Homo sapiens: one gene and its partner. The protein of the gene in region 2 purifies or fractionates together with the protein of the main gene of each other region. This does not show direct contact. Each region holds a gene or a part of one and is shown on either strand. Other genes may lie near its edges.

The links. The genes of interacting proteins can lie anywhere in the genome.
Region 1: the proteins of SLC38A5 (region 2) and ANAPC1 purify together in Homo sapiens (affinity purification with mass spectrometry; one large-scale study listed by BioGRID and IntAct). This does not show direct contact.

What each region holds. Positions count from the first base shown.
Region 1 is NC_000002.12:111,769,194-111,772,693, forward strand, and holds part of ANAPC1 (anaphase-promoting complex subunit 1), read right to left. Parts: intron 3,283-3,500; coding exon 3,148-3,282; intron 1,942-3,147; exon of another isoform or gene 1,868-1,941; intron 214-1,867; coding exon 98-213; 3' UTR 1-97. UniProt on the Homo sapiens protein: Component of the anaphase promoting complex/cyclosome (APC/C), a cell cycle-regulated E3 ubiquitin ligase that controls progression through mitosis and the G1 phase of the cell cycle.
Region 2 is NC_000023.11:48,459,292-48,464,851, reverse strand, and holds part of SLC38A5 (sodium-coupled neutral amino acid transporter 5), read left to right. Parts: intron 1-1,871; coding exon 1,872-1,954; intron 1,955-2,560; coding exon 2,561-2,619; intron 2,620-2,707; coding exon 2,708-2,845; intron 2,846-3,054; coding exon 3,055-3,134; intron 3,135-3,765; coding exon 3,766-3,866; intron 3,867-4,087; coding exon 4,088-4,203; intron 4,204-4,975; coding exon 4,976-5,120; intron 5,121-5,212; coding exon 5,213-5,316; intron 5,317-5,560. UniProt on the Homo sapiens protein: Symporter that cotransports neutral amino acids and sodium ions, coupled to an H(+) antiporter activity. Releases L-glutamine and glycine from astroglial cells and may participate in the glutamate/GABA-L-glutamine cycle and the NMDA receptors activation.

The sequences.
Region 1 (3,500 bases), on a different chromosome or scaffold from region 2:
TACCATAAAACTTTATAAACATTGCTTTAGCTTTGATGTTTGGTCACGTTTGTTGTGCAGAAGTCACGTTTCAGGGTAGGTTCACCGCCAGACACGGTCACATCACCATTGGCTGTGGATTTCCAAGAAGCAAAGGAGCCAATCTCAGCAAAGCTCGCACTGGCATTTTTAGCTGCTTAAATTTGAAGAGCAGTTCAGCAAAGCTTGTGCTCCCTAAAATGGAAATGGGGTGGGAAGGTCACATCTCTAAATAAATTCAGCCATACCTCTCCTTTCAAGGAAGCTTCAGAAACACAATCATGTTTAAAACAGGCATTTTTCCCTTTGAAAATGACTATGCAAAGACAATATTTAAAATTATGAAATTCCTTAATACACTGTAATGTAAATTGAGTATCCCTTTTCCAAAATGCTTCTGAAGAGAGGTGTTTTGGATTCTGGATTTTTTTAGATTTTGGAATATCTGCATTACACCTACTGGCTTTCTTTTTTTTTTTTTTTTTTTGGAGACGAAGTCTCACTTTGCCACCGGGGCTGGAGTGCAGTGGCGCTCTCTCGGCTCACTGCAAACTCCACCTCCTGGGTTCACCCATTCTCCTGCCTCAGCCCCCCGAGTAGCTGGGACTACAGGTGCCCACCACCACGCCCAGCTAATTTTTTTTGTATTTTTAGTAGAGATGGGGTTTCAACGTGTTAGCCAGGATGGTCTCGATCTCCTGACCTCGTGATCCGCCCGCCTCGGCCTCCCAAAGTGCTGGGATTACAGGCGTGAGCCACTGCGCCCAGCCTCGGCTGAGCATTCTTAATCCAAAAATCCCAAATCCAAAATGCTGTAATGAACATTTCCTCTGAGCATCATGTTGGTGCTCAAAACGTTTTCGATTTCAAACACTTCAGATTTCAGATTAAGGATACTCAAACCTGTATATGATTTGATAGAATTTACCCATTCTAGACTTCAGAAAGTGACCTATAACTACATGTGAAACTACTAATATTGTTTAATTTTATATATATATATATATATATATATATAAATTCTTTAAATATAATGTGCAAAAGTGCCTGTCTACCTTCAAATACTATCTAAGTGGTATTTTACTGGTTCTAATACAGTTGACCATTGAACAACCCTGTTTGTCCAGCCTGGCCTGAAAAGAAGTCTATACTTTTAAAATGTCTTCCTTTTCCTTTTAGTAGTTTGACTATTAATGTGACTAGGTATGGTTTTCTTTGTATTTATCCTGCTTAGGGTTCACTGTGGGTTAATATTTAACACAATTTTTCAAAATTCTTAGCTTCTGTCTCTTCAAATATTGCTTCTAACTCATTTTTTCTCTCCTCTTATTCTCTTATTCCAACCCCATGCATGTTTATTTTTTTTTCACGGTTTCCACATGTCTCTTGTACTCTTCTCTGTATTTCCTAACCATTCTTCCCTCTGTGCTTCAGTTTGTTTACTTTCTACTTGTCTTCCAGCAGATAAGTGTCTTCCAGTTCACTTCAAATAATCCAGTACTGAGATCTTCATTTCAGTTACTATATTTTTCAGTTCTAGAATTTCCATTTAACTCTTTTTTATTGACCCCAGGTTTCTGGTGAAATTCCCTATCATTCCTTCTATTTTCCTGGAAACATTAGACATAGTTATTTTAAGTTCCAGTATGATAACTCCAATATCTGAATCACACATAAGTCTGTTTCTATTATCTGTTTTTTTATTATTATTATGTTTCGTAATTTTTGATTCAACACTGAATCCTGTAGACTAAAAATTGCGGGGGCTCTGGGTATGTTTTCTTTCTCCTATGAAGGTTACATTTTCTTCTGTCAGGTGGGGAGAAAGCACACAGATCACCTTAGTTCTGCTCTAGGCTAATTGTAGGTCAAGTCTGCTTGGAGTGAAACTGAAGCAGACCAGATCTAAAATTAGGCTAGAGCAGGCTTAGGGCTTGGCCATGTATTAATTCACCTGAGGAGCTGGGATGCTGATCAGAGCCACTTCACTTTAACAAGCGTTGAATTCCACCCTTTGTCTCCTCAGTCCTATGCTGCTGCTGACATTTTTGCTTACATTTTTGGCCTTGTGGCTTCTGCTAGATCTCTTGAAGTCTTATCCCATGTATATGAAGGCTAAAATATCATTAAGTAACTCAAGGGAAAGGTATATCCAGAGTCTGAGTTATGATTTCTATTGTTCTCTCCTGCCTGAGACTGTGTTCCTCAAGTTCTAGGCTCTTGGGCAATCACAAACCCAACCTCTGGCTCCTCAGCCCTGCAGCATTGCTGCTTTTTGCTGGCACTCTACTTCTTGTACTATGAACTGGCAAATGCCTTTGGGGGAGAAGCTAGGGTGAATATAAAGCTCTCCCTGTTGTACTTCCCTTTTCTTATTTTTTTTTTTTAGCTTTTATATTTGTTTTTGAGGGCAAGTGAGTCCAATACAAGCAATTCCATCATGGCCATAACCAGAAGTCTCTAGATAGTAAACTTTTATCAGAGGCTTGCAAAACAGCAAAAAACTAGTAATGTAATTAAACTTCAAGTTTAAATGATTAAATGGAACAATCTTTGCCCTTATCAAAAAATATTTTTTTTGAGAATCTCAAAAAAATTGGGTGCTTAGAATTCATCATATCTTAGTATTCAGCTTAATGGATAAATTTTTTTTATCTGTTTCTATATTCTGAAAAATACAATCAGGTGATAATACTATTAATTTTTAAAACTATTATAAAAAAATTCAAACACAAAATTAGGTATTTATTAGTTGTAAAGCTTTGTAATATTAGAAATTAAGATTATATGTGATTCTAAAAAACCCAACTGAAAACCTAGAAAATAAAGAAAAATAGCTTTAATAAAAAAATCAATTAGTAAAGAATAATATGGAATATTTAGTTTATTAGTATAGATCAGTGTTTGGGGCTCTGTGAAGAAGAATCCATCCTTTTCTGAATAAAAATGAAAGTTATTCATATATAAAGTTGATAATTTTTTCTTTTTTGCTCCAAAACAGTCCCTAACAATGACACTGCAACATTAATGAAGAGGAAAGTCAAACTAGGGGCAGTAACTACTGAGAAACTAGAACATAAAGGGGTAGGTAACAGAGTTACTGAAGATAAGACTTAGATATGCAATTACCTTCTAGTCCTATAGGTGGCAGGTGCTGTGGAGCTGGCACAGAGTGGTAGACGAGGAAGCAGGCCAGCATGCTCAGCTGTGATTCCTCCAAGGGCTGCCCGCTGAGGTAGGCGTGCACACACATATCACCCCCGACTGTGAGAGAAACAAATGGAACGGAACCAACTGATGACAGAACTGAGAGGCACAAGAAATATCTTCTATTACTTTTTCATCAAGAACTTATTGAACGCTCAGCATATATAAAGCAGGTTCTATAGCCGGTATTGAGGCTACTCTGACAAGCTAGACTGAGTCCCTGTCATTGTAGAGTTTAGAGTGTTGTTGGGGGAGACAGATATTACACAAATAAT
Region 2 (5,560 bases):
AGCGATTCTCCTTCCTCAGCCTCCTGAGTAGGTGGGATTACAGGCATGCACCACCATGCTCGGTTAATTTTTTAATTTTATTTTTTTGAGACAGAGTCTTACTCTGTTGCCCAGGCTGGAGTGCAGTGGCGCCATCTTGGCTCACTGCAACCTCCACCTCCCAGGTTCAAGCCATCCTTCTGCCTCAGCCCCCATGCTCGGCTAATTTTTGTATTTTTAGTAGAGACGGGGTTTTGCCATGTTGGCCAGGCTGGTCTTGAACTCCTGACCTCAGGTGATCTGCTTGCCTTGGCCTCCCAAAGTGCTGGGATTATAGGCATGAGCCACCACACCCGGCCAGTCTGACAATTTTAACTGAGTGCTTGATCTTTACTCTCTGTGTGTATCCTTTTAGATTTTTGGTTTGATTCTGAGAACACTAGATAGCTGATAGTGTGACCAGAGATGTCTCATTATTATAGTTAGCTCCCATTGGTTTATTTCTGTGTAACTGTATATGAGATAGAAAGAGACCATGTGAATGTCTAGAACATAGGCATTCAATCAAGTTGTTTTGAATGCATGAGCAGTTGTTCAGCTGATTCTGTCTTAACTGACTGTCTTGCCTGGTCACCTTCCTCCAATATCTGTACAGATCCCACCTTTTCTCAGAGCTTGGTTCCAACAGTGTGGCCAGCTGGATGATTTCGTTTCTATTTCAGTCTTTCTTTGGCTGTGCAGCCAAATCAGTCCACAGGCATACTTTCAGGCATCCAACAAACCTTGAGCTGTTCAAACAAGCATGCATGTGTGTTTCTGACTTTTTGATGGACTCTGCATCGTGGCTTGTCTACTGGATCATCAGACTGTTGCTCTACCTGTCAGACATACCACGATCGTGACTCACTCTCTTTGTGTCTGGCACCTTGTGTTGCACTGATTTTCTCCTTTCTTTCTTTCTCTTTCTTTCTTTCTTTCTTTCTTTCTTTCTTTCTTTCTTTCTTTCTTTCTTTCTTTCTCTCTCTTTCTTTCTTCCTTTCTCTTTCTTTCCTCCCTTCCTTCTTTTTTTTCTTTCTTTCTTCCTTTTTTTTTTTTTTTTTGAGTGTCTTGATCTGTCACCCAGGCTGGAGTGCAATGGCGCGATCTTGGCTCACTGCAACCTCTGCCTCCTGGGTTCAAGTGATTCTCCTGCCTCAGCCTCGCGAGTAGCTGGGATTACAGGCACGCGCCACCATACCTGGCTATTTATTTATTTATTTATTTTTTTGAGACAGAGTCTCCCTTTGTCGCCCAGGCTGGAGTGCAGTGGCGTGATCTCGGCTCACTGCAAGCTCCACCTCCCGGGTTCATGCCATTCTCCTGCCTTAGCCTCCTGAGTAGCTGGGACTACAGGCACTCCCCACCACGCCTGGCTAATTTGTTTTGTATTTTTAGTAGAGACAGGGTTTCACCATGTTGGCCAGGCTGGTCTCAAACTCCTGACCTTAGGTGATCCACCCGCCTCAGCCTCCCAAAGTGCTGGGATTACAGGCGTGAGCCACCACACCTGGCCTGGACTGATTTTTACATTGAGTCTGACTGATTTGGGGTGTTTGACCTTCTGGTTGTGCAACCACTTGCGAAGTCTGATGGCAAGTTTTGTCCAGCTGTGTATGTGTTAGCTGTGTCCCACTGATAGTATCTGACAATCTCATAATCAGCTTGACTGTTTTTGTCAACCCTATTGTGCCGTTTGTCACTGTGACCACCTGAATGACTTCTCAAGCTGAGGTTGTCAGCTTAACTCTCCTGACTTAGGGCAGAAAGCTGCCTGTCCAGCTGTCTTCTGTGAGTGTCTGCCTGACAGTTTCCTTTGGCTGGCAGCTAGGCACTGTGTCTTCCTGTCTCTCTAGGGACTGGTTCTTGAAGGGAAACCTCCTCATCATCATCGTCAGTGTGTTAATCATCCTGCCCCTCGCCCTCATGAAACACTTGGGTAAGAGGCTCCCTGGGTTGGCCATTGGGTAGTGGGATTAGACAGAAGAAGCCAGACTGAGAAAACCCCCATTCATTTTCAAGGGCTGCAGCACACTAGGAGAGAGCTTATTTGATGTGGGCTTGAACAGATTAGTAGGAGTTTGCTATGGAGGGGAGGTTTTTCTGGGTGGAAGTAGAAGCTTATGCAAAGGTAACTGGGGTGGGTAGACCTTGAAGGCTAGACTAGGTGTTTGGAGTTCACTGTTCCGGGGGTCCATTGATTTTTTTGTTTTGTTTTGTTTTTTTGAGACCGAGTCTCACTCTGTCACCCAGGCTGGAGTGGTGCAATGGCGTGGTCTTGGCTCACTGCAACCTCTGCCTCCCGGTTCAAGCGATTCTCCTGCCTCAGCCTCCCGAGTAGCTGGGATTACAGGTGTATGCGCCACCACACCCAGCTAATTTTTGTATTTTTAGTAGAGATGGGGCTTTGCCATGTTGGCCAGGCTGGTCTCGAACTCCTGACCTCAGGTGATCCACCCGCTTAGGCCTCCCAAAGCGCTAGGATTATAGGTGTGAGCCACCACGCCTGGCTGATTTCTGAGACTCTGTGTTTTGCCCCTCTTAGGCTACCTGGGGTACACCAGTGGTCTCTCTCTGACCTGCATGCTGTTTTTCCTTGTTTCGGTGAGTCACAGAGAAGCGGGGAGAGAGTTTGGGACATTGGGACATAGCTTCCTCCATGACCTGGCTTCCCTGCTGCCCCCATCCTCAGGTCATCTACAAGAAGTTCCAACTTGGCTGTGCTATAGGCCACAATGAAACAGCAATGGAGAGTGAAGCTCTCGTGGGACTCCCCAGCCAAGGACTCAACAGCAGCTGTGAGGCCCAGATGTTCACAGTTGACTCACAGGTGTGTGTGCAGGCATGTAGGAGATTGCATCACACTCAGGCCCTCTGGTTCTGTCATATGGTGCATCCTGCTCAGAGTGGAGCTGGATATTCGACATTGGGAGCTTCTATGTGTCTGATATGGAGGGCGATTACGGGGCGGGAGGGGGATGGGAAGAAGGGGATGGACCCCTGTTGGCTCTAATCCCATGTACTCGGGCATTCCCCTAGATGTCCTACACAGTGCCCATTATGGCTTTTGCTTTTGTCTGCCACCCTGAGGTGCTGCCCATCTATACGGAGCTCTGCCGGTGAGTGGGCAGGCAAGTGGGCCTGAATGATGGGCCAGCAAGTGGGGTGGTAACCAGAATGTCTGACACTCCCTACAGCAGTCCTGGGACTGTCACTTGGTGGAAGCTAGGTTGTGTCATGGGAGGGGTTTGGGGTGGCCAGGAGGTCTTGGGGCACTCAGGGTAGTGACTGTTTGCTGATTGGGGCTTAAGTATTCTCCTATTTTAATATCCAGCACAAATGTGGATGGACAGAGTTGGGAAGCAGAGATCAGATGATCAGATGGAGGGGGTGATATGCATGGCTGGTGATATGGGGATAGGGAGGTACGGACAGACAGAGGCGGAGGCAGGGATGATATGATGGGAGATGTGTGGATGATCAGACAGAGGGACAGCATGGATGGTCAGATGGAAGAGGCAGTGGCAGTCAAACGCAGGGGAGAGGGAGACAGTCATATCGGGGGAGATATGGATGGTCAGAGAGGGGATTTTGGCTAGTCACAGGGGAGGCAGAGACGGGTGTCCCCATGTGTGCCAGCTGAATGGCAGTCTGGGAGAAGGGGACTCTGGAGGGTGGAGGCTGGCTTTGAGGGACCTGGGGCAAGTCTCAGGGTCTGGGCATGACAGTTCCACGACCTCTACACCTCAGGCCCTCCAAGCGCAGGATGCAGGCCGTGGCCAACGTGTCCATTGGGGCCATGTTCTGCATGTATGGGCTCACAGCAACCTTTGGATACCTCACCTTCTACAGTGAGTGGGGCTGGGGCTAGGGCTGGGGGGAGGGGGAAGGCCTGGGGCAGGAGCCTCTGAGCTCTTTCCTTCTGTGACCACGGACCTGTCAGTTTCCAAACAGAAGGTGTGCCTCACTTGTGTGGATTTTGTCACTGTGCATGTATGTATGGGTTTCTGGGGCATTGGTCCTGGTGCTCTCTCCACATCCTGCATCCCGTACCCTCTGTCTCATGGCCCAGGCAGTGTGAAGGCGGAGATGCTGCACATGTACAGCCAGAAGGACCCGCTCATCCTCTGTGTGCGCCTGGCCGTGCTGCTCGCGGTGACCCTCACTGTGCCAGTCGTGCTGTTCCCTGTGCGTGGGGCCCACGGCTGAGAGGGACATGGATGGATGGGTAGAGGGCATAGGCATGGATGTGTGGGTCAAGGCTGGAAACAGGAGTGGATGGATGGATGAAGGAGGCAAGGATGGACAGACAGGAAAGGGCAGCGTTTTCAGATGGACAGAGATGGCAAAAATCGATAAACAGAAGTGGGGAGGACATAGATAGCAGGAGAGAGAGGGTCAGGGGACAGGGTAGTCAGTTGGAGGGAGGAGGCACAGATGGATGGCTAGAAAGAAGAGGGAGGCAGGAAGGGTCAGTTGGAGGGTAGAATTAAGAAACAGGGATGGACAGAAAAAGGGTGGAGGCTGAAGTGATGGGATGTAGGAGGGTCAAGTCTCCCAGATGGGGAGGCAGAACTAATTAGACAGAGGAGGGAGGTAGAGGTCAGATGGAGAGAGGCAGGGAGCTCACACAGGGTGGAAGGATCGGTGGATGGTCAGACAGAAGGAGAAGGCAAAGATGGTCAGCTAGAGGAGGAGGCAAGGATTTCAGACAGTGGGTGCAGGTGCCGATGGGTGTTCAGACAGAAGGAAGAGACGTGGATTGTCAGAGGATGGAGGCAGGAAGCCTGTTCAGAACATAGAGACACAGATGTTGGGTTAGGCAGGGTGGAGCCATAGATAGTCAGAGGGAGGGGAAATCAGGGATCTCAGCCAGAGGGTGGAGCTAAAGACAGATGATCACGTGGAAGGGGGGCAGCACTTGGGTCCTGACTTCTGTCCCACCCTACTCTGGCCACAGATCCGCCGGGCCCTGCAGCAGCTGCTTTTCCCAGGCAAGGCCTTCAGCTGGCCACGACATGTGGCCATAGCTCTGATCCTGCTTGTTTTGGTCAATGTCCTTGTCATCTGTGTGCCAACCATCCGGGATATCTTTGGAGTTATCGGTCAGTAAACCTCACCCCAGTCCCATACCCCATCTAATATGGGCCTTGTCCCCAAGTCAGGTTGACTCCTGTCCCTTCTTCTTGTTCTCCAGGGTCCACCTCAGCCCCCAGCCTCATCTTCATCCTCCCCAGCATCTTCTACCTCCGCATTGTACCCTCTGAGGTGGAGCCTTTCTTATCCTGGCCCAAGATCCAGGTAAGCATTCCAGGGCAGAGCTAGGGAGAGAGGGAGCACTCCAAGGAGGGAGTGCTCACTCCAGGATGGCTGGAGGTGAAAGGGACATGCATAGGAGGGGGCTGGGAGAGCATCTGAAAGAATGGTCTGGAAGAATGAAGGTGATTGTCTAGGAAGGGGCAGAGGAGACAGAGCACCAGCAGGGTCCAGGAAGACAGGGAGCACTCAAACAGAGGCTGGCATAGAGGGAGCATTCTCCAGACAG